Linked DNA regions of Homo sapiens: region 1 is linked to region 2. Evidence: fine-mapped QTL for protein levels in blood plasma. A gene starts in region 2. The other region holds a variant in brackets. All regions are shown on one strand. Distances are between the middles of the regions.

Region 1 (10,769 bases), 63 kb after region 2:
GTCATTCTTAATTATCTGTATTAATAGAAGGTAAGCAAGAACACAGATAAAATCAAAGCCACAGATCATGTCAAATGTATTTTGAATTGGTATGCATTGTCTGCTTTATATTAATATTGAGGTGACTTATTCACAATTCAACTTTATTAGGACTAATGTTAAAATAAACTTGCATTCTTTGAGCCCAAACAATGGAAAAGAATGGAATGAAAAGCCACAACAACAGAATGAAAAGGGTCAGGAGGAAGCCAGCTTGGGATGATCATCTGTTACTTAAGACAACCGCCAGCAGCAGCTTCAAACACTATCCTTATACCACTCTGCCGAGAGAAGACATCCCTTTAGGAAAAGCTGACTCCAGCAGCCAGCCCCCTGCCATGCTCCTGGAAAGGCCAACATGGCAGGAATTGGAGTGACCCCAGAATGAGGTGACCCAGAGTTAGAGGCAAGAGGGCTGAGTTTCTGCAACAAGTAGGATTTAGGTCAGGAAGCTCCTTGTTTGGTAAACTTGGGAGCAGAATATAATGCTGATGTGGGTGACCCTGGGTCGTAGCAGCATCTTCCTTTCTAAAGAGCTCTTATTGTGCCTGTTGTCTGCTCAAAGTGGTAATTGTGGGGTGGAGAAACACAGAGAGGTTGCTGGGGTGGAAAGAGGAAGATTAAAAAGTAAGGATTATGGCCAGCCAAGCCCTGTGATGCACTGAATGGGTCTGATCATGTGGCCTCTGGCTCCCCCTGGAGAGAGAGGATGGCTATAGGCTGGGCCCTTTTGTCTCCCCAGGTGCTGATTCTCCTGTACATCGCAGACTGGATGGTGCACTGGATGTGGGGCCGGGGCCTGGACCCGGACAACTTCTCCATCCCATACTTGACTGCTCTGGGGGACCTGCTTGGCACTGGGCTCCTAGCACTCAGCTTCCATGTTCTCTGGCTCATAGGGGACCGAGACACGGATGTCGGGGACTAGCTTGGTCACTCAACATTTTCCCCATCCCTCTGCACTTTCTATTTGAAATTTTTCTTTTGTTCCCCTGTCCCTCCTCCACCCCACACTCCCACCTCTTTCTAGGACTTCACTTTGATACCAAATTCTCATTATTTTCAATGGGAATTTTTATACATTGAGCCAAGTTTGTATAGCAAGAATTTGGGAAACACAGATGGCCTGAGATAAGCAGTACAAGTAGGTTTTTGAGACAATCACCAAGTGCAGTTTCATGGTGGGTGCCTCCAGGTGATGTGGACTGGAGCAGGGGAGTTTTGTCTGGAATCTGGGGACATGGGGTTTGGCTTTAGCAACCTGTCTTGGCCCTAATGAGAAACCCTTTGTAAGTGGGCTCTGGATTTTTGGTTTTGTTTTCTTTTTATCTGTTTTGTTTTATTTTTGGTTTTGGTTGAACAGAGGGACAGAAGAATAAGTAACACTCCCAAACACAGACATACTTTTGTAGAAGTGGACCAACTTCAAAGCTCTGGACAGGAGACACCTGCTCCAGGCCCCTGTGATCCCAGTTCTGTTCTCTTGCCCTCTGGACCTAAGCGTTCCCACTCGCAGAAAGAGTAAGGTGGACTGACTTTTCAATTTGTGCACATGCCTCTTGTTCAATGGCCTGGTCAACATCAACAACCCCTCCCTCTGATCATTTCCAGTTGATTGTCATATCCAGGAAAAAATGGAACAGTGCACTCTTCTCCCTGTTGACCCATGTCCACCTATTGGTTCCCCAAAATCCACATTCTCCCTGGGCCCA[A/G]ATGACTTTGTCTCCCTGGGCCCAGATTCTTTGTCTCTCTTCAACCTTCATCTCAAATTGTCTCTAAGCACTACCTTCCCCAGAGCTTGCCAGGTTGGGTTTTGAGATTAGGGTCAGGTCATGGGTATGTGGAGAATGGTTTGGAGGTTGAGGACAACCACAGGTGTCTCATTGCTGCCATTTCTCCTGAGGACATAATCACTTGGTCACCTTGGACCCTGTCACTTCCTAAAATTACTCGTTCTGTCATGCCATAGAGGTCAGTTTTCCTCTTTCTTGGCTTCTACCCACAAACATTCACCAATCATTTATTCGTTCATTTAGCAAATATGCAGCCTCCGCAAGATGAGCTCTCCTGCAGACAAGCATGGTCTGAAACATTCTTTGAGCAATATTTATTGAGTGCCTACTATGTGTTAGGTACTGTGCCAGGCACTGATAAGCCAGTGGTAAGGGAAACACAGCTCTAACCTCACCTCATTCTCCAGGTTACAAAGGCCATGTGCCCCTTTGAATCTGGCAGAGAAAGTTTCCTCGTTGTAAGTATTTGCATCTACTTCAAGCCAGATTCTTCTGCCTCTTTCTCCTTTCCAGACCCCTACTCTGTGCAGTGCTGACCACAGCTAGAGCCACCGCCCCATTGCTCAACCAGTATTTATTTCCCTAAACGACCCTTCCTCACATTCCCTTCCCTCCACCTCTCCTTACCAAGCACCCAAAAGAGGATTTAGAACTAGCAGGGTGGACATCATCTGGTTGTTTCTACTTTTCTCTGCCTAGCACAAAATTGGGAGAAAACTGGAGCCTCCATCCGCAGTCACACGTGTACAGATCTGGGGATTTGGATGTAGGCTTTTTCTAACTTCTCTCTCAGAAGCTTCTACAGAAACCCTTCCATCTGTAGCCTCAAGGGCCCACCTCCAAGGGAAGGCTTAGGCAATGATCCTGTTTCTACCAACACTGCACCTTATCCCAGGAACCTGCCCTAGACCTCCAGAGACCATATTTTCTCTCCCTCCATTTCTACCCAGACCTCCAGGCCTCCTTCTGGAATCATAGAACCGTAGAATTGGAAGGAATTTTAGAGGTTTTCTAGTTGGAGTTGTGTCCAACAGAATTCATTAACACCAGCCTGGGCTTGTTTTTCCTCCTCCCTCTGGACTTTTTTCATCTTTTCCTCCACCTCAAAAAATACTTACACACAGATTCTTCTTGTACAGGCATCAAAACCAACTCCTCTGCCCCTAAGGCTGTGTCCCTGTGGTCTCCAGCCACCCCTACCCCAGTCACTCGCCCCTTCCTCATCTCTGGAATTTGGCCAGGCAGTCCCAGAAGACTCTGGAGTGACCTCCTTTGCCTAAAAAGCAGACAGATAGGCATGCCCCAGGCCCTGAGTGAGCAGAGGAGGACTGTAGGGTGAGAGGGAAAGAAAATGAAGGTGACTTTCATGGAAGTTTCATTTCTTTTCCCCGATTGTACCAACTGCATGTACTTTTGGCCTGGCTGCAAGGAGCAATATTGGTTTACTCTCGTATCCTTAAAAAGTTACAGAACTGTGTCTTAAGAGAATTATTTATAGTTACTATAACTGAATTGACAAATGTCAACTTAACTGATAAATTATATTTGGTAAAATAAAGAGGACGTTTATTTAGATGGTTGGTGTTTCCTGTATGTCTCATCAAAAAGCAGCTTCAACTGTTGTCTTGGGCCCCTCTGTAGGCCTTACCCTCTCCTCAATTAGGAGTAGAAAGGGGCCAAAGTGTGACAAGAAATGAAACATCTCGGCCGGCTGCGGTGACTCACGCCTGTAATCCCAGCACTTTGGGAGGCCGAGGCGGGCGGATCACAAGCTCAAGAGATGGAGACAATCCTGGTCAACATGATGAAACCCCGTCTCTACTAAAAATACAAAAATTAGTCAGGTGTGGTGGCGGGTGCCTGTAGTCCCAGCTACTCAGGAGGCTGAGGCAGGAGAACCACTTGAGCCCAGGAGGCAGAGGTTGCAGTGAACCAAGATTGCACCACTGCACTCCAGCCTGGCAACAGAACGAGACTCCATCTCAAAAAAAAAAAGGAAACATCTCTAAAATGCAGAGATTGTGTGATAGAAAATACAGCATCGCCAGACACAGCGGCTCATGCCTGTAATCCCAGCACTTTGGGAGGCTGAGAGGGGTGGATCACCTGAGGTCAGGAGTTCGAGACCATCTTGGCCAACATGGTGAAACCCCGTCTCTACAAAAATTAGCTGGGCGTGGTGGCGGGCGCCTGTAATCCCAGCTACTTGGGAGGCTGAGGCAAGAGGATCACTTGAACCCAGGAGGTGGAGGTTGCAGTGAGCTGACATCATGCCATTGCACTCCAGTCTGGGTGACAAGAGCAAAACTCTGCCTCAAAAAAAAAAAAAAAAGAAAAAACAACAGGCATTTATTGAGAAACTGGTGCACGGGGACACACTCAAGAAGCTAGATGCAGGGTCCTTGCTCTCGAGGAGGTTGTACTCTGGTCTCCATGTGTTAACTCAGCCTCTGTTGGGGGATTGTGCTATGGGTCCAAGCATTTATGGGTTAAGATTCCCTCCCTACCGAGGCTTACAATCTGGGTCAAAATAATGACGGCTCTTATTTGTTGAGTATTTCCTGTGTGTCTTCACCGTTCACCTTTAAGCCCTTAGAAACTTATAATAGACTGACTGCAAAGGGTTTGGAGTCAGATGGGCCTTGGTTCAAATCCCAGCTCTTCTGCCTGTATTTGTATAACCCTGGGCAAATCATTCACCCTTTCTGAGCTTCAGTTTCCTCATCAGTACTAATACTTATTTCATAGGATCATTATGAGACCTCAGTGAGATAATAAACAAAGCACTAAGCTCCGTGCCTGGTATATACTAAACCCAAAAATCCTAATCAATACTACAGTGTGGGAGGGACGAAGGCCAGTGACTAGGTCATGTCAGTACGCTGGCCATGGGATAAATTCAGGGTGGATAAGGGAGCGGGCCAATGAAAAGGGCACCTGATCAAGGCTTGGGAGTCAGGGACATCCTGGAGGAAGCTGAGAAGAATAGGAGTTAGCCTAGCAGAAAATAGGAGAAAGAGCCGTCCTGCAGAGGGAACCAGGAGCTGAGCAAGGAAGTAAGCCTGATGCTTTTGGGAACTGCAAATAGCTCTGTATGACTGGAGTTGGGAGCGCAGACGTTGATAGCACAACCTTATGAGACGCACGTATTTGTGACAAAGCAGTTTTTCTGAGATGGCAGATACAGAAAGGCAGAGTCAGAGCACAGCCCCACTGAGGTATCTCTGACTACAAAGCCTGTGTCGGGAACCACTGCCCACCCAGGACATGCCCCCATGGGATATGTCACAAAAGTATTGAGCAGATACTGGGTGCAGAACATTTGCCAGTCTCAAAAATCTGCCTTTTATCACAGCCTGTGCTCCAGTACTAACTCTTCAAAGCAATGTTTATAAGGCTAGTAAAGGTTAATGGAAAGAGGATAATTGCTTGTTAATTATTATTTATATAGTGTTTCACTATATAGTATACTATACATATACTTTTAAGTGATAGACTCATTTGTAACATCAATGTTTTCTCTAATAACGCTATGAGATAGATATTATTGCCATTTTGCAAGAGAAAAACTGAGGCTCAGAGAAAAGTTAAATGTCTTGCCCCAGGTCATATATTCACACCCAGGTTTCTTAGCCCAGTGCGTGCCTTCTATGCCTGGAGCCAGATGAAATGGCTGGCCATGGTGCCCCTTTATAAGGAATATAAAACATTGCTAAAACGATCAGAAAAATGGGTGCCTGTTATCTCAGTTTTGCTTATGAGACACTATACATGACTGCAAAACGTTAATTGTTTACTGAAATAGTATCTTCCAATGGACATTTAAAGTCATGGCTCCAAGGCGCCAGCCTATCTCTGATGGTATTTTTATAACATAATTACAGGCAGCACTACCAATTCAGAGGTCAGTCAGCTGACAGTCTCCTGAACTTAGTTGTCTCCTTTAGCTAAACTTCAGAAACCGAATAATGCATAGTATAATGCTGTTTACTGTACTGTATTTTTATTACATTATCTAAATATGAAATATTTTAATATGGCACCCATGAAAATGTCTGGCTTGAATGATTAGAAACAAAACAAAAAAAAAACTCTACAGCCAGGCATGGTGGTATGAGCTTATAGTCCCAGCTACCCAGGAGGCTGAGGCCGGAGGATCAGTTGAGCTCAGGAGTTCAAGTCTAGTCTGGGCAATTTGGTGAGACTCTCTTTTCAAAAACACAAAAATCTTAATAACTCAAGAAAGAAAAAGAAATTGCAGAAAAGTGAAGACAGCTTGGCCAACCAAAAAAGAATGTTTAAAAATAATTTCAAAGACTTTACAGTCATATTTATGTTTAGTTAAGTATGAATGACTAATATTATCTAGTCATTGGTGATTTTTTTAAGTTAAATGAAAAACACATCCAAATAAGTTTAAATGTTCTGTCCTGGCCAGGCGCGGTGGCTCACGCCTGTATTCCCAGCACTTTGGGAGGCCGAGGCGGGCGGATCACGAGGTCAGGAGATCAAGACCATCCTGGTTAACACACTGAAACCCCGTCTCCACTAAAAATAAAAAATAAAAAAATTAGCCGGGTGTGGTGGTGGGTTCCTGTAGTCCCAGCTACTCGGGAGGCTGAGGCAGGAGAATGGCGTGAACCCGGGAGGCAGAGCTTGCAGCAAACCGAGATCGTGCCACTGCACTCCAGCCTGGGTGACAGAGAGAGACTCCATCTCAAAAAAAAAAAAAAAAAGTTATGTCCTATTCAGTCATATTTATGTGATATACAGTCCTTGTTTTGAACATAAATATTTTGTATTATATTCAAATGTTAAGTGAAAAAAATGTTGAACAATTGTATAGAGAACATTGCATTAGAAGAGCCCCAAATTGCGGCCTTCTTGGGACACCCACATGTTTATCTGTCTTTTACTCGGCCACAGGCTGTCATGCGCATAACTTTCAATCATATTACCTAAATTGTTAACTACTTCACAAATTACTCAGAAATAAAGTATGTGGTTTTTAGGAATTCGAAGTCCATGGAAAGGGAGACTAAAGCTTTAAGAGGTTAACTTTAAGACCTGCCCCAGGTGTCAAAGACGGAATATTAACTACAGTCTCCTGATTGGCAGGCCACACACCAAACCACCCTTCGACACAGGCTCAAGAAGGTAGCGGGGAAAGATGTCACCATGGCCGGAAGTGCTCTTAGGGGACCCACGTCCAAGCCAAGAACAAGGCCACTGATCTCTCGCCCTCATAACTCCCATCCTGTGGAGCCAGAATAGTCCATCATGTGCCCACTCATGCTTCTGCTCATGCTTCTACATTCTATATCTCTCGCTTAGCTTAACATCTAGGTTATCTTTTTTCTGTATCAGGGTCACAGCTGGCTGCCAGAATCCTCTGAGATGACCCAGGGCTTACCTAGAATTTCTCCTGCTTCTCCAACCAGACACAACTGCCAGGCTGCCTTCGCCAATCAGGGCAGATTCTTTTTTTTTTTTTTTTTTTTACTTCAGTAAGTAGGGGTCCTGTTTTCCACCTTTGGAATGAGGAAACTCAGAAAACATGCTAAGGATGCTGTACTCTTCTGGGAAACCTCCCTCATCCCCACACCCAGCTTAATTTTTAAAAATAGTTGTAATTAGAGGTAGACAGACATAGTAATAGATTTGGATCCCAGCTCTCTCAGCTCGTGGCCATAATTAGCCTCTTTTGGTCCCCAAAATGGAACAATAATGCCCTCTCTGTGGGGTTGTTAGGCACACAGAAGATTCGACAAATAGAAGCTTTTATGATGATGATGATAAAATGTGGGTTGAATTAGTGGTGGTAATAATATGAAGGAACTGGGGAATGAAGAAGTGGATAGCCCTGGAGCGATGCTGGGTTTTTTTGTGAGGTTTTTTTTGTTTCGTTTTTGGTTTTTGTTTTTTGTTTTTTTTTGAGATGGAGTCTTGCTCTGTCGCCCAGGCTGGAGTGCAATAGTGCGATTTCGACTTACTGCAACCTCCACCTCCCAAGTTCAAGCGATTCTCCTGCCTCAGCCTCCTGAGTAGCTGGGATTACAGGCATTCGCCACCACACCTGGCTAATTTTTTTGTATTTTTAGTAGAGACGGGGTTTCTCCACGTTGGTCAGGCTGGTCTCGAACTCCCGACCTCAGGTGATCCGCCCGCCTCGGCCTCTCAAAGTGTTGGGATTACAGGCGTGAGCCACCAAGCCCAGCCGATGCTGGGTTTTATCCATCTGTGACATGGGTGCAGCTGAAGCTGGACAACGCTGAGCAGTGAGGAGGACCAGCCTGTTTCACAGCTAGGCTTCCACTGGGCGAAGGCTATGACATGGCTAAGCTAAGCCAACTATGACCCTGAGTCCAGCTGCATCCTCAGAGGCTCAGAAACCTAGTCCCATTCAGATGTCATCCCACTCAAGGAGGCTGCCAGACCCACACACCCCCAGAGGCCTGTGCATAAGACCAGATGCCAGCTGGTCAGTGGACTGGACGGACACGTCAGCCTGACCAGCACATTCACTCCTGGAAGCAAGCCACAAGGGAAGGCAGATGATCAGAAAGTACCTGGAAAGTCAGGAATCCTAATAGAGAAGTTAGTTTTAAAACGCAAAAGTCCAGCAGGCGCCAGGCCTTGTTATATTTGGCTGCATGAGTCTGCACAATAGGGATACCTGACAGAGGGCCAGATATTCTTGTAAGACTCTGGTCCCTCTGCCAGACAGAGCCCAAAGAAGTGAAGCCAGAATTCTTTCAGAGTCTCCTTTCTTTGCCTCTGAGACCTTTCTTTGGATCAGTGCATTCCTTCTTTAGGTGTGTTTATACCTTGGGTCAATGTCACCTCCTGCCTGGGCACCTCTCATTACATGTGGATTTCACAGTTTATCTTTGAGAGGGGTAGGAGGACAATGCTACTTCCAAGTTCTTGGCAAGGAGGGGCAGGTTATCAGTGGATAACTAAGGATGGCCTATGGGTGCAATAATTTCTGCTTTTCTCACCTCCTAGAGAGTTGAAATAACATAGGAAATTAGAACAGTCATGTCTGTGTTGGAAGGGAACTTTATTTTGTTTCACAGATGAGACTTTCCTGTGCCATATGGACAGTTGGGAACCACACAACCAGTTCTTTGAAGCAAAATTTTCTCTTTAGTTTTCACTTTTTTCCTGTCTTCTTTCCCTGGCCTTTATTTGGGGTGGAAGGAGGGTAGCCACAGAAGGAGGCAAATGTGACAACCAAGGCAGTGAAAACTATAGTTTGATGTTTTCCCTAGATACTCCCAGGCCCAAATCTGGCCTAGACCCTTGGCACGGGCCAGCAGAGGAATGACTGGCAGGCTGCCCTTTGAACTTGCCAGCCTCTCTGTCCTGAGGGTTTCCTTGGGCACCTTGCTGCGAAGTCTTCCAGCTGAATGCTTAGCTGGGTCACAGGCATTTCACCAAGCTGCCTGCCCCTCCCCAAAGCAACAGCCAAAAAGTTATGATCATCGAAGTGAGTCTGGGGGTTGGGGCTGAGGAACAGCTGTAGCCTCTTGACCTCACCCTTCTCTGGGTCTGTCCCTCTCCTCTGTGCTGCTGCTGGGCCATTTGCTATGTCACTTCAGTCTTCCCTTCATGTTACAAAGCATTTTTCCACTCTGCTCCTAGGACAATGTTGGAGGCTCTGGAGATTATATAAGCTGTCTCTCTCCTATTTGAAGTCAAGCTCCCAAGTCCTTAGGAGATTGCCTGGCACCAGATCATTTCTTCAACAAGTGTTCATTGAATTCATAGTGTAGGCATCACTAATAGCTACCTGACATCAGCAACATACTAAGATGCACACCACATCCTCTGTGTGGGGCTCTTGCCCAAAATGTTTCTTAAATCAAATCTTGAGGCAATAAACAGACAATCCAGGATATGCGACTTCCTGTAAGACAACTGGCATGGACTCTAAAAAGAAAGTCAAAAAAAAAAGGGCAAGGGATTGTTATAGACAGTACTGTCCAACAGACCTTTCTGTGATGATGAAACTAGTTTATGTCTGTGCTGTTCAATATAGTAACTGCTAGCCAAATATGGCTGCTAAGCACTTGAAGTGTGGCTAGGCAACAGATGAGCTGGTCTTTACATTTATTTATTTTAATTAATTACTTTAAAAAATTTGTTTAGAGATGGGATCTCGCTATGTTGCCCAGGCTGGTCTCGAACTCCTGACCTCAAGCCATCCTCCTGCCTCAGCCTCCCTGAGTAGCTGAGATTGCAGGCAGGAGCCACCAAGCCCAGCTGATTTTATATAATTTAAATGTAAATAACCACACATGGCTACTGGCTCCTGTATTGGACACAGCATGCTCCTAAGATTGAAAGAGACTAAAGAAATAGAATAACCAAATTCCATGCATGAAACTTCATTGTATTCTGGATGACAGGTGAGGAGAAAATGAGAAAAAAATATTGGGGAGCTATAGAGAGATGTAAATGTAAACTGTTTGTTAGATGATATTATTGGATTAAGGTTAATTTTCATAGATGTGACAATGGTATTTTGGGCTGGGCGAGGTGGCTCACTCCTGTAATCCCAGCACTTTGGGAGGCCGAGGCAGGCAAATCACTTGAGGCCAGGAATTCGAGACCAGCCTGGCCAACATGGCAAACCCCATCTCTATTAAAAATAGCTCGGTGTGGTAGCGTGCACCTGTAGTCCCAGCTGCTTGGGAGACTGAGGCAGAAGAATTACTTAAACTCAGAAGGCAGAGGTTGCAGTGAGCCAAGATGGTGCCACTGCACTCCAGCCTGGATGTCAGAATGAGACTCTGTCTTAAAAAAAAAAAAAAAAAAAGATAATGGTATTTTGGCTTTGTAGGATAATTTTATTATTAGGAGCTGCATGTTGAAGTATTTAAGCTTGAAGTGTCTGCTACTTACTTTCAAACAGTTCAACACACACACAAA
Region 2 (10,950 bases):
TGGATCTTCTCTCTGTTCTTGGTTAATCTCACTAATGGTCTATCAATTTTTTTTATCTTTTCAAAGAACCATCTTTTTGCTTCATTTATCTTTTGTATTGTTTTTTGTTTGTTTGTTTCAATTTCATTTAGTTCTGCTCTGACTTTTGTTATTTATTTTCTTCTGCTGGTTTTGGGTTTGGTTTGTTCTTGTTTCTCTAGTTCCTTGAGGTGTGATCTTAGGTTCTCTATTTGTGTTCTTTCAGACTTTTTGATGTAGGCATTTAATGCTATGAAATGTCGTCTTAGCACCACTTTTGCTGTATCCCAGAGGTTTTAACATGTTCTGTCACTATTATCATTCAGTTCAAAGAATTTTTTAATTTCCATTTTTATTTCATTGTTGATCCAAAGATCATTCAGGAGCAGATTATTTAATTTCCACATATTTGTATAGTCTTGAGGGTTCCTTTTAGAGTTAATTTCCAATTTTATTCCACTGTAGTCTGAGAGAGTACTTGATATAATTTTGATTTTCTTAAATTTATTGAGATTTGTTTTGTGGCCGATCAAATGGTCTATCTTGGAGAATGTTCCATGTGCTGATGAAAAAAATGTATATTCTGAATTGTTAGGTAGAATAGTCTGTAAATATCAGTTAAGTCCATTTGTTCTAGGGTATAGTTTAAGTTCATTGCACTCCAGCGTGGGTGAAAAGAGCAAAACTCAATCTCAAAAAAAAAAGACTCACTACTAAGATGGTCAATATCTCAAGCTCAGGCTTGGTCAGACCTATAACATGCTATCACAAGTATGTGTTAAAGGGCTATGCAGATGAGGGATGCATTAAATTTTGACCATAGGAGGCCTCATTAACCAAATTATATTAAATTATTATATTAAATTAGTAGGCCTCATTAACCAAATTATATTTAAATATTATATTAAAAAGTTCAGAGACATTTTTCTTTTTAAAAAGCCACACATCTAGTGTATGTGTTATGTGAACACAGATTATTCTGTTTAGCACAAGGTGCTTCTGCATGCAGGTGTAGATGTTCCCAGGGTCAATTATTCAAGTGACCTTAGCTACATAGGAGAAATAAATTTTATCTGTCTCTGGGCTTTTTGGAAGAATTCACATATAATTCTGTGGATACCCAAAAACTGAAGAAGAATATGGTTTTATCTTGTCACTTAGCTTATCTAGTTTACTGTCACTATACATTTCCTTTCCTATGTTTGTCTCCTATTTAGTAAAGACTTCCAGCCTTTTCAGCCTGGCCTCAGCTTGGCTACTGGGCATTAATCCCTGAGCCACTCATTTTTGTTTTTTCCTTCCTTCCTTTCTTTTTTTTTTTTTTTTTTTTTTTTCCAGAGACAAGGTCTTGCTCTCTCACTTACGCTTGAGCACAGTGGCACATTCATAGCTTACTGCAGCCTTGAATTCCTGGAATCCAGCAACCCTCCCACCTCAGCCTCCTGTAACTAGGACTACAGGTGCTCGCCACCATGCATGGCTAATCCCAGAGCCATTTGTCCCAGGGTGTTAGAGAGGGGGCTGCTTGCTGCTCCTAGGCCACCTTCTCCCACCTCTGACAACTTTGGAGGGGTTGTTTTTAATTAGATTTAGGAAGGTAATCTCATCACTCTCCATGAGATTTTCATAAGGGGAGGGAGGAGTTCCAAGAATCCTTTTTTCCTCTGACCCATCCTTCCTCAGCTCTGTACTCAATGGGTGGTAGGGATGAGGGAAAAAGACTGATGTTATAGCTCAAAGTTGTTGACTGCCTAGAGGCCTAGAAATGTGTTAGTAATGAATCTGGGGTAGGCCTGAGTACGTGGAGTGTATATGTACCGGTGTGTTTGGGTGTGTAAGGAGGTAGGGGTGGGAGGAGCATGGAACATAGTTCTGGGCAGTTGCACAAGTAGAAGGAAATCCTAGTTCTACTTTTTGATGATTTAACATTTATTGAATGACACATATGTAGGGCAAAGTTTGAGAGAGTTTATACTCTAATGCAATGGCTGGATGAACTCTCAATCGTTGCCCTACATATGGTGGCTTAGTTTTTCCAAGAGCAAATCTACAGTCTCTACTCTGCCCATGGGAATTAGATTGTCCTCTGATCAGTCACAAAATAAACTTCTTTATCACTTTGTAAAAGAACTGTGTCTCCATTGCTATTTCTACCACCCACCCCTTGCCCCTGATTTGCAGCTGACCTTTATGAATGTATTTTCCGAACTCAGCCAGGGCTGTAGTATTGGACTTCTCAGAGCTAAAAGTCACTGTTGGAATCTGGATGGCACCTGTCAGAGTCAAATGGTCAGAGATGAAAGACTGAACATGAATTAATCATTTTTTTTTCTACAGTCCTCTGTGCACAAAAAGTTCTTTTGCCTTCATTATCGTATTGCAGAGGGCAAAACACTAATATGAGGTAGGCACTATTGTTTTCTCTAATTCGAAGATAAGGGAAAAAGCTTGAGTCCAGGAGTTCAAGAGCAGCCTGGGCAAAATAGTGAGACCCTATCTCTACAAAAATAATAATAAATTTAAAAATAATAAATACATAAAATAAAAAGTATCTTTTTAAAAATTTTTAAAGTTTGGTAGAGATTAAGCTATTTTTTACTAAAAATTCATATATATATATATATTTATGACCTTGGACTAGATTTGTTAAGATTTTTTAAGCAAGAAAACATCACTAATTATAAAAGAATATAATAATAAATTCAACTATATTATTAAGACTTCAACCCATCAAAAGGCCATTAAAAAAATAAAAACACAAGACACAAATGAAGAGAAATATTTATAATTTAAATAAAACTGACAAAATTTTAGACTCCACAATATATAGAAACCCTTAAAATTCAATAAGAAGACAGCTCTAAACAAAAATGGGCAATAGATATGAACAGTCATTTTACCAGAGAAACATGAATGGCAAATAAGCATATTTAAAGATGTTTAGGCCAGGCATGGTGGTTCAGCCTGTCATCTCAGCACTTTGGGAGACCAAGGCAGGAGGATCATTTGAGGCCAGGAGTTCAAGACCAGTCTGGGCAACATAGAGAGACACTGTCTCTATAAAAAAACTTCTAAAAATTAGCTGAAGGTGTTGGTGTTCACTTGCAATCTTAACTACTCAGAAGGCTGCGGCAAGAGGATTCTTTGAGCTCAGGAGTTGGAGGCTGCAGTGAGCTATACTTGTGCCACTGAACTCCAGCCTGGGTGACAGAGCAAGACCCTATGATAAATAAATAAATAAATAAATAAATAAAGCTTAAACTCTTTAACAAACTAGAGAGTACAAAATAATACCACAAGGAGATATTTTCCAGGCACTAAATGGGCAAAATGAAGATATTGGAAATGCCAATGCCAAGAGCTAGTGAGAAAGTGAAGCAACAGGAACTTATATACTATGCACTACCTTGCTGATTAGTATAAATTGTTCCAATCACTTTGGAAAATAATTCAGCCTTCTCTTGTAAAATAGAACATACAGTACAACACAGCATTTTCACTCCTAGATATATATTCCAGAGAATCTCTTTTACCTGTGGCCCAGGAGACATGTACAATAATGTCAATAGACTGTAGCAAGATATAACAGCATGCATAAATCCCACAAACAGTGTTGGGTAAAAAGAGCAAATTGCAGAAGACTACACACAACATGATGTCATTTTTATAAGATATACACACACACACACACTATACATATATGTATATCATACATATGTTGTAGAACTATTTAAAACACACAACACGGTCATACAATTACCTTGGGCAGGGAGTTGGAAAATAAAGGCAATAGAACACATGCACCTTCAATGCTACTGATAATTTTCCATGATTGGCTAGATCTGGGAACAGTGTGGGAATTAGACAGATTGCAAGAATTGGAGCAGTGACAGGAGAAAAAATGCAGTTTGACCAGTTAGGTCTAAACTCCAAATCACGGGTGTTCATGTTATTATTTACTTTACATACACGTTGTACGTACTCTTAATTATCAAATATTATGTGATAAGATAATTTAAAGAATATTTAAGGACCAGGAAGTGTTTATGACATAATGTTAAAGGAAAAAAAGCAGAACATAGAACTTTGGATGCAGTATATGCATCTGTTTCATTTTAAAACAGGGACATCCTTCATTTGTGGGTATTTGTGTGCAGAGAAAAAAGATTGGATAACATCAAAATATGATGAGTGAACGTCTCTGGATATTGGGATAGCATGTGATTTTTTTCTTTATACTTAATGTTCCAAATATTTCACAAGGGCATAAATATACATGAATTTTACAATCATAAAAATTGTGCTGGGTGTGGTGGCTCATTCCTGTAATACTAGCACTTTGGGAGGCTTAAATGGGAGGGTTGCTTGAGTCCAGGAGTTCAAGAGCAGCCTGGACAAAATAGTGAAACCCTATCTCTACAAAAATAATAATAATTTTAAAAAATAATAAATATATAAAATAAAAAGTCTCTTTTAAAAAAATTTTAAAGTTAGGTAGAGATTAAGCTACTTTTTACTAAAAATTATGTCAATGTTCATGTTTAAATTTCAACTCTATTTTTAACATTCTAAATCTTAAACTAGGTGGTGAATCCAGAAATGTTCATTATGTTATTTTTTATATCTTTATAATATGTGAAGTATTTCATGATACTGTTTTAAAGTTGCTATTAAAAAGTAACTAGGCAGGGTGTGGTGGCTCACGCCTGTAATCCCAGCACTTTGGGAGGTCGAGGTGGGCAGATCACCTGAGGTCGGGAGTTCGAGACCAGCCTGACCAACATGGAGAAACCCCATCTCTACTAAAAATACAAAATTAGCCAGGCATGGTGGTGCATGCCTGTAATCCCAGCTACTTGGGAGGCTGAGGCCAGAGAATTGCTTGAAACTGGGAGGCGGAGGTTGCGGTGAGCCGAGATCGCCCCATTGCACTCCAGCCTGGGCACCGAGAGAGAAAAAAAAAGAAAAGAAAAGAAAAGTAACTACATGGCTGAATTTTTTTTTTTAAGCAAATCTTAAATGAAATGCAAACACCAGGACTGTGAACCTGTAGCTTTGGTCACAGGTAGCAATATGGCCTTACTGGTTGTATAGCACTTACTGAATTTTTCTTGAGAATTCTAAAATTTGAGAGTGATGCCAGATAAAATTGCATCAAGAAATCTGAAAGGAACGATTTATTCTGGCTTCAGGAAATCTGATTTTATATTTCTGTGACATAAGACAGGTTTTCTTTTTTCCAGAATGATCCTCTACTCTGAATAACCATAAAATTTCACTTGTGGAATACATCAAAATTATTTATACATCAAAATTCTCTTAAATATTTTATAGTAATCTTTCTAAAAATCCTTCAGTCTTACTGTACTTGTCTAGAGTTGCAAAAATGTAGTGTTAACATTAATATTAAAAGCACTTTCAATGAAATTTCTAAACAGGAGCCAACCCTCTGAGCTGGTATTTCAAAGCAGTATCTATAAACAGAGCAATTTGTTCCAATTTCAGATGAAATCAAGCTGGGAACCTAGAGAGCTCCCCCGCCCCAGGATCTAGGGAATTGTAGTCAGGTTCTAAGCTTCGGAAAAAACGAGCAGCAGAGTATGGTCTGATAAGCTTCGTGCATTTTATTTTGCTTTTCCTCCTTTATTTGATTTGTTGTCATACAGGAAAGGATTTATGGGTGAGAGATCAAGTGCGGACCAGACATGACTCTAGCCTGGAGCCCGACCTCACCTCTGCTCTGCAGGAACTGCTGGCCTCAGCACGAAAACCCACAACCCTCGAAAGGCCTTAAGGATCCTGGGCGGGGTCATTCTGTCAATTGGTTGTTCCGCTGTCCTAGCGAAGCGATGATTGGTCAGATCTGGATATGGGGTGTGGCTAAGGCTGTTTGCCGGAATAAGAGCAGAGCTAGGGCCAAGAAACGCTAGTCTGGGCGTTTAGGTCAGAACTACCCCGGTAGCCTGACAGCAGGAGCTCGAGAGAAGCATGGCTCAGCGGTGCGTTTGCGTGCTGGCCCTGGTGGCTATGCTGCTCCTAGTTTTCCCTACCGTCTCCAGATCGATGGGCCCGAGGAGCGGGGAGCATCAAAGGGCGTCGCGAATCCCTTCTCAGTTCAGCAAAGAGGAACGCGTCGCGATGAAAGAGGCGCTGAAAGGTGAACCCGGGTCCCCTTCACCCACCTATGCTCATATGTGGGTCCCTCCCTCCCCAGGTCAACCCGTGACTCCCCGCTTCCGCCGCAAAGCATCTGCTACTGCAGCTGGAGCCCCGACACGCACCCCAGCCCGGCCCCAACACCCTTCCCAGCACATCGTGCCCCTGTCTGGGGACGCCACACTTCCCCCATACCTGGCTCCTGGAACTCTGGTGTGCCCTGCCTAACCTGGAAGCTCCAACTTCACCCCTCTTGGCGTGACCACCGTCCATTCTTTCCCCTGCTTGCCTCGAGTATTACACCAGCTTTCATTTGTACATCAATTTTAACCTTTGAAAGTTTGCATGCCTGATAAATTACTGCGGTGTCGTAAAATAAGACAAATGATATTAGTCTTATCTACAAAGGAGAGAAATTGAGGCTTAGGTCAGCTAAATGATCTTCCCCAGGGCCCCACAGCAAAGAGTGGGCAGTGGGTGACAGCATCTAGTGCCTGTCGGACTCGCTGGGATCAGATGGCTCTAAAGAAAGGGAGTGGAGTGTTCCCGGGGTGTGGGATGTTCCTAATTCTCAATCATAATTGAAGAACATGTCTCCTCTAGATCTCTAATCCAGACCAAAAATTCATCCCTGTTCTGAATCTGCATTTTCCAGGAAACAGGAAAGTTTCTGTTGAGTGCTAGATCCTATGGGATGAAATCCTTCTTTACCATTCAGCTTAGCTCCAGTCTTTTCCCTTTCATTAAGTAATGGATTAAGAGAGACTGCCTGCATAAACATATAGAAGCAGATGCAGGGACCAAAAGCTAACCCCAATAGTTGGATATAGATTGTTCATATGCTAGAGTGACAAGCCTGGGAGGCAGAGCAGGGCTTTCCCAAAGCATAAATAATTCTCTAAAAGGCATTAGACAGCCACTCACAGTCTGCACAGAAGAGAACAAAAGCTACATAAGCTAGAATAGGGACCTCATAGCAACACAGCTTGGAACTCTGAGCAGGGGACAGAACACCTGAGATCAGATCCTTGGGTCTGCCCTTGAGTAGGCACTTGAATCTTTCTGAACCTCGGCTTCCCCATCTATCTGGTGGGCTATGCTATTGTAGGGTTGATCCTTAGCAAAACTGATGAAGTTTGTCTTTCAGAGACCCTTCCTGCCTCAGGTGAATTTGTTTGCACTGTGTTCTTGGAGAGCAGTCTAATTCAATATTCTCATGATTCATGCTTTCCCTCCCAGTGGTTTTGTCTTTGATCATGGAACTCTTTAAAACTGTAAAGTCTTAAAGACTCAAAGGGATGAGCCCAGTGAAGGTTCAGGAACTGAGACAACTGAGTAAGGAGGGTGAGATTATTTTAGGACTGAGGAGTTTGTTTGGAGGCTTCTAAATCCACCCCTTCCCAGGCATTATATGCCCAAAAAGCTGGTCTTGGTTGACAGACTAGTGAGACTCTGCATAAGGAATAAGCCTTTACATACAAAAACACACAAGCCTCATTGATGTAGGGACCCAGGACAGTGGGTGCCTTGAGAATGATGAAGCTTGGATTCATCAAAGCAATTGGTGATTTCAGAGGTAGTGAGGCCTTAGGAAGCAATTTATAGTAGCTTCCCTTCAAGACCAGGATCCAAAAATCCACTTCCCTCCAATCTTAGACTGTATTTGCCTTTAAGAACCATATCAGCCTAAACAAACCCAGAAGACATAGGTTTAAATCTATAGTCTGCCTGTTGCTCAGACAGCTCACCTAACCTCTCCAAGCATTTTCCCTCATCTTCGAATTAGAGGAAACAATAGCGCCTACCTCACATTAGTGTTTTGCCCTCTGCAATATGATAATGAAGGCAAAAGAACTTTTTGTGCACAGAGGACTGTAGAAAAAAACAATGACTAATTCATTTTCAATCTTTCATCTCTATTTGACTCTGACAGGTGCCATCCAGATTCCAACAGTGACTTTTAGCTCTGAGAAGTCCAATACTACAGCCCTGGCTGAGTTCGGAAAATACATTCATAAAGGTCAGCTGCAAATCAGGGGCAAGGGGTGGGTGGTAGAAATAGCAATGGAGACACAGTTCTTTTACAAAGTGATAAAGAAGTTTATTTTGCGACTGATCAGAGGACAATCTAATTCCCATAGGCAGAGTAGAGACTGTAGATTTGCTCTTGGAAAAACTAAGCCACCATATGTAGGGCAAAGATTGAGAGTTCATCCAGCCATTGCATTAGAGTACAAACTCTCTCAAATTTTGCCCTACATGTGTGTCATTCAATAAATGTTAAATCATCAAAAAGTAGAACTAGGATTTCCTTCTACTTGTGCAACTGCCCAGAACTATGTTCCATGCTCCTCCCACCCCTACCTCCTTACACACCCAAACACACCGGTACATATACACTCCACGTACTCAGGCCTACCCCAGATTCATTACTAACACATTTCTAGGCCTCTAGGCAGTCAACAACTTTGAGCTATAACATCAGTCTTTTTCCCTCATCCCTACCACCCATTGAGTACAGAGCTGAGGAAGGATGGGTCAGAGGAAAAAAGGATTCTTGGAACTCCTCCCTCCCCTTATGAAAATCTCATGGAGAGTGATGAGATTACCTTCCTAAATCTAATTAAAAACAACCCCTCCAAAGTTGTCAGAGGTGGGAGAAGGTGGCCTAGGAGCAGCAAGCAGCCCCCTCTCTAACACCCTGGGACAAATGGCTCTGGGATTAGCCATGCATGGTGGCGAGCACCTGTAGTCCTAGTTACAGGAGGCTGAGGTGGGAGGGTTGCTGGATTCCAGGAATTCAAGGCTGCAGTAAGCTATGAATGTGCCACTGTGCTCGAGTGTAAGTGAGAGAGCAAGACCTTGTCTCTGAAAAAAAAAAAAAAAAAAAAAAAAAAAGAAAGGAAGGAAGGAAAAAACAAAAATGAGTGGCTCAGGGATTAATGCCCAGTAGCCAAGCTGAGGCCAGGCTGAAAAGGCTGCAAGTCTTTACTAAATAGGAGACAAACATAGGAAAGGAAATGTATAGTGACAGTAAACTGGATAAGCTAGGTGACAAGATAAAACCATAGTCTTCTTCGGTTTTCGGGTATCCACAGAAGTTTATGTGAATTCTTCCAAAAAACCCAGAGAGAGATAAAATTTATTTCTCCTATGTAGCTAAGGTCGCTTGAATAATTGACCCTAGGAACATCTACACCTGCACGCAGAAGTACGACCTTGTGCTAAACAGAATAATCTTTATGTTCACATAACACATACACTAGATGTGTGGCTTTTTAAAAAGAAAAATGTCTCTGAACTTTTTAATATAATATTTAAATATAATTTGGTTAATGAGGCCTACTAATTTAATATAATAATTTAATATAATTTGGTTAATGCGGCCTCCTATGGTCAAAATTTAATGCATCCCTCATCTGCATAGCCCTTTAACACGTACTTGTGATAGCATGTTATAGGTCTGACCAAGCCTGAGCTTGAGATATTGACCATCTTAATAGTGAGTCTTTTTTTTTTGAGTTGGAGTCTTGCTGTGTCAGCCAGGCTGGAGTGCAGTGGTGTGATCTCGGCTCACTGCAACCTCCACCTCCTGAGTTCAAGCAGTTCTCCTGCCTCAGCCTTCCAAGTTGCTGGGATTACAAGTACGTGCCACCACGCCCAGCTGTTTTTTGTATTTTTAGTAGAGACGGGGTTTCACCATGTGGGCCAGGCTGGTTTCGAACACCTGACCTCAAGTGATCTGCCCGCCTCAGCCTCCCAAAGTGCTGGGTTACAGGCATGAGCCACCACGCCTGGCCGAGTCTTTTTTTTTTTTTTTTGAGATGGAGTTTTGCTCTTGTCACCCACGCTGGAGTGCAATGGCGGAACCTCAGCTCACTGCAAACTCTGCCTCCCAGGTTCAAGCGATTCTCCTGTCTCAGCCTCCTGAGTAGCAGGGATTACAGGCATGAGCCACCACACCTCACTGATTTTTGTATTTTTAGTAGAGACAGGGTTTCGCCATGTTGGCCAGGCCGGTCTGGAACTCCTGACCTCAGGTGATCCACCTGCCTCGGCCTCCCAAAGTGCTGGGATTACAGGCATGAGCCCCCAAGCCTGGCCTTAATGGTGGCTCTTGATTTGCATTTATTACATAGTAATAGCACATTGAAATATGGGGAAGACGAATTTCAAAGATTGTCCAGGTAGATCAGGAATCAGACTAGCTTTGTCCTAGAAGGCTTCCTAAAGGAGGATGCATGTTTAAAAAAATAAATAAATAAAGGAACAGGAAGCACAACTTGGTAGGAAAACCTAAGGAAACTGTTAACCCTGGTTCTCTCTTCCTGCCCTTTTTGCTTCTAGTCTTTCCTACAGTGGTCAGCACCAGCTTTATCCAGCATGAAGTCGTGGAAGAGTATAGCCACCTGTTCACTATCCAAGGCTCGGACCCCAGCTTGCAGCCCTACCTGCTGATGGCTCACTTTGATGTGGTGCCTGCCCCTGAAGAAGGCTGGGAGGTGCCCCCATTCTCTGGGTTGGAGCGTGATGGCATCATCTATGGTCGGGGCACACTGGACGACAAGAACTCTGTGATGGTCTGAGATGCAATGTTCCCTCTGCCTTGGGGCCCTAAAGATCAATCAGGATGGGGGTGCTTGGCTGACCCTGGGAGGTGGGAGATAATGGTAAAAAGAATCTTGGCTCCAGGAGACCTGGGTTCCAGCCATCAGTTTGTCACTTCCCTTCTCTGGGCCTTGATTTCTCAGCTGTAAATGGGATTGAATGGTCCCC

Which allele goes with the higher level. Alleles are on the strand shown, and positions count from the first base shown. The strength of an association depends on the size of the effect and on how common the allele is.
For the plasma level of the protein whose gene starts at base 5,947 in region 2, A is the high allele of the variant in region 1 and G is the other (strong association).

Evidence for each region. PIP is the chance, under the fine-mapping model, that this variant and not a neighbour inherited with it causes the effect. Protein levels are from antibody-based Olink assays in UK Biobank. Linkage for the fine-mapping came from a reference panel and not from the study's own genotypes, which makes the PIPs less certain.
Region 1: its variant is fine-mapped to the plasma level of the PM20D1 protein (UK Biobank, PIP above 0.99).

Annotation. Positions count from the first base shown.
Region 1 is chr1:205,781,731-205,792,499 of GRCh38, reverse strand. SLC41A1 (solute carrier family 41 member 1) reads left to right here. Exons shown (of 11, transcript NM_173854.6): 11 at 782-3,405. The coding sequence ends at 967. Among named protein-coding and RNA genes, the nearest start is that of RAB29, 12 kb to the right of the region's middle. RefSeq lists an enhancer at 809-868. The variant A/G (reference allele first, on the strand shown) is at 1,752.
Region 2 is chr1:205,845,129-205,856,078 of GRCh38, reverse strand. It overlaps PM20D1 (peptidase M20 domain containing 1), which reads left to right and starts at 5,947. Exons shown (of 13, transcript NM_152491.5): 1 at 5,947-6,175; 2 at 8,108-8,194; 3 at 10,522-10,754. The coding sequence starts at 6,007. It overlaps LOC107985250 (a long non-coding RNA gene), which reads right to left and starts at 1,324. Exons shown (of 2, transcript XR_001738417.2): 1 at 1-1,324. RefSeq lists an enhancer at 5,724-6,018.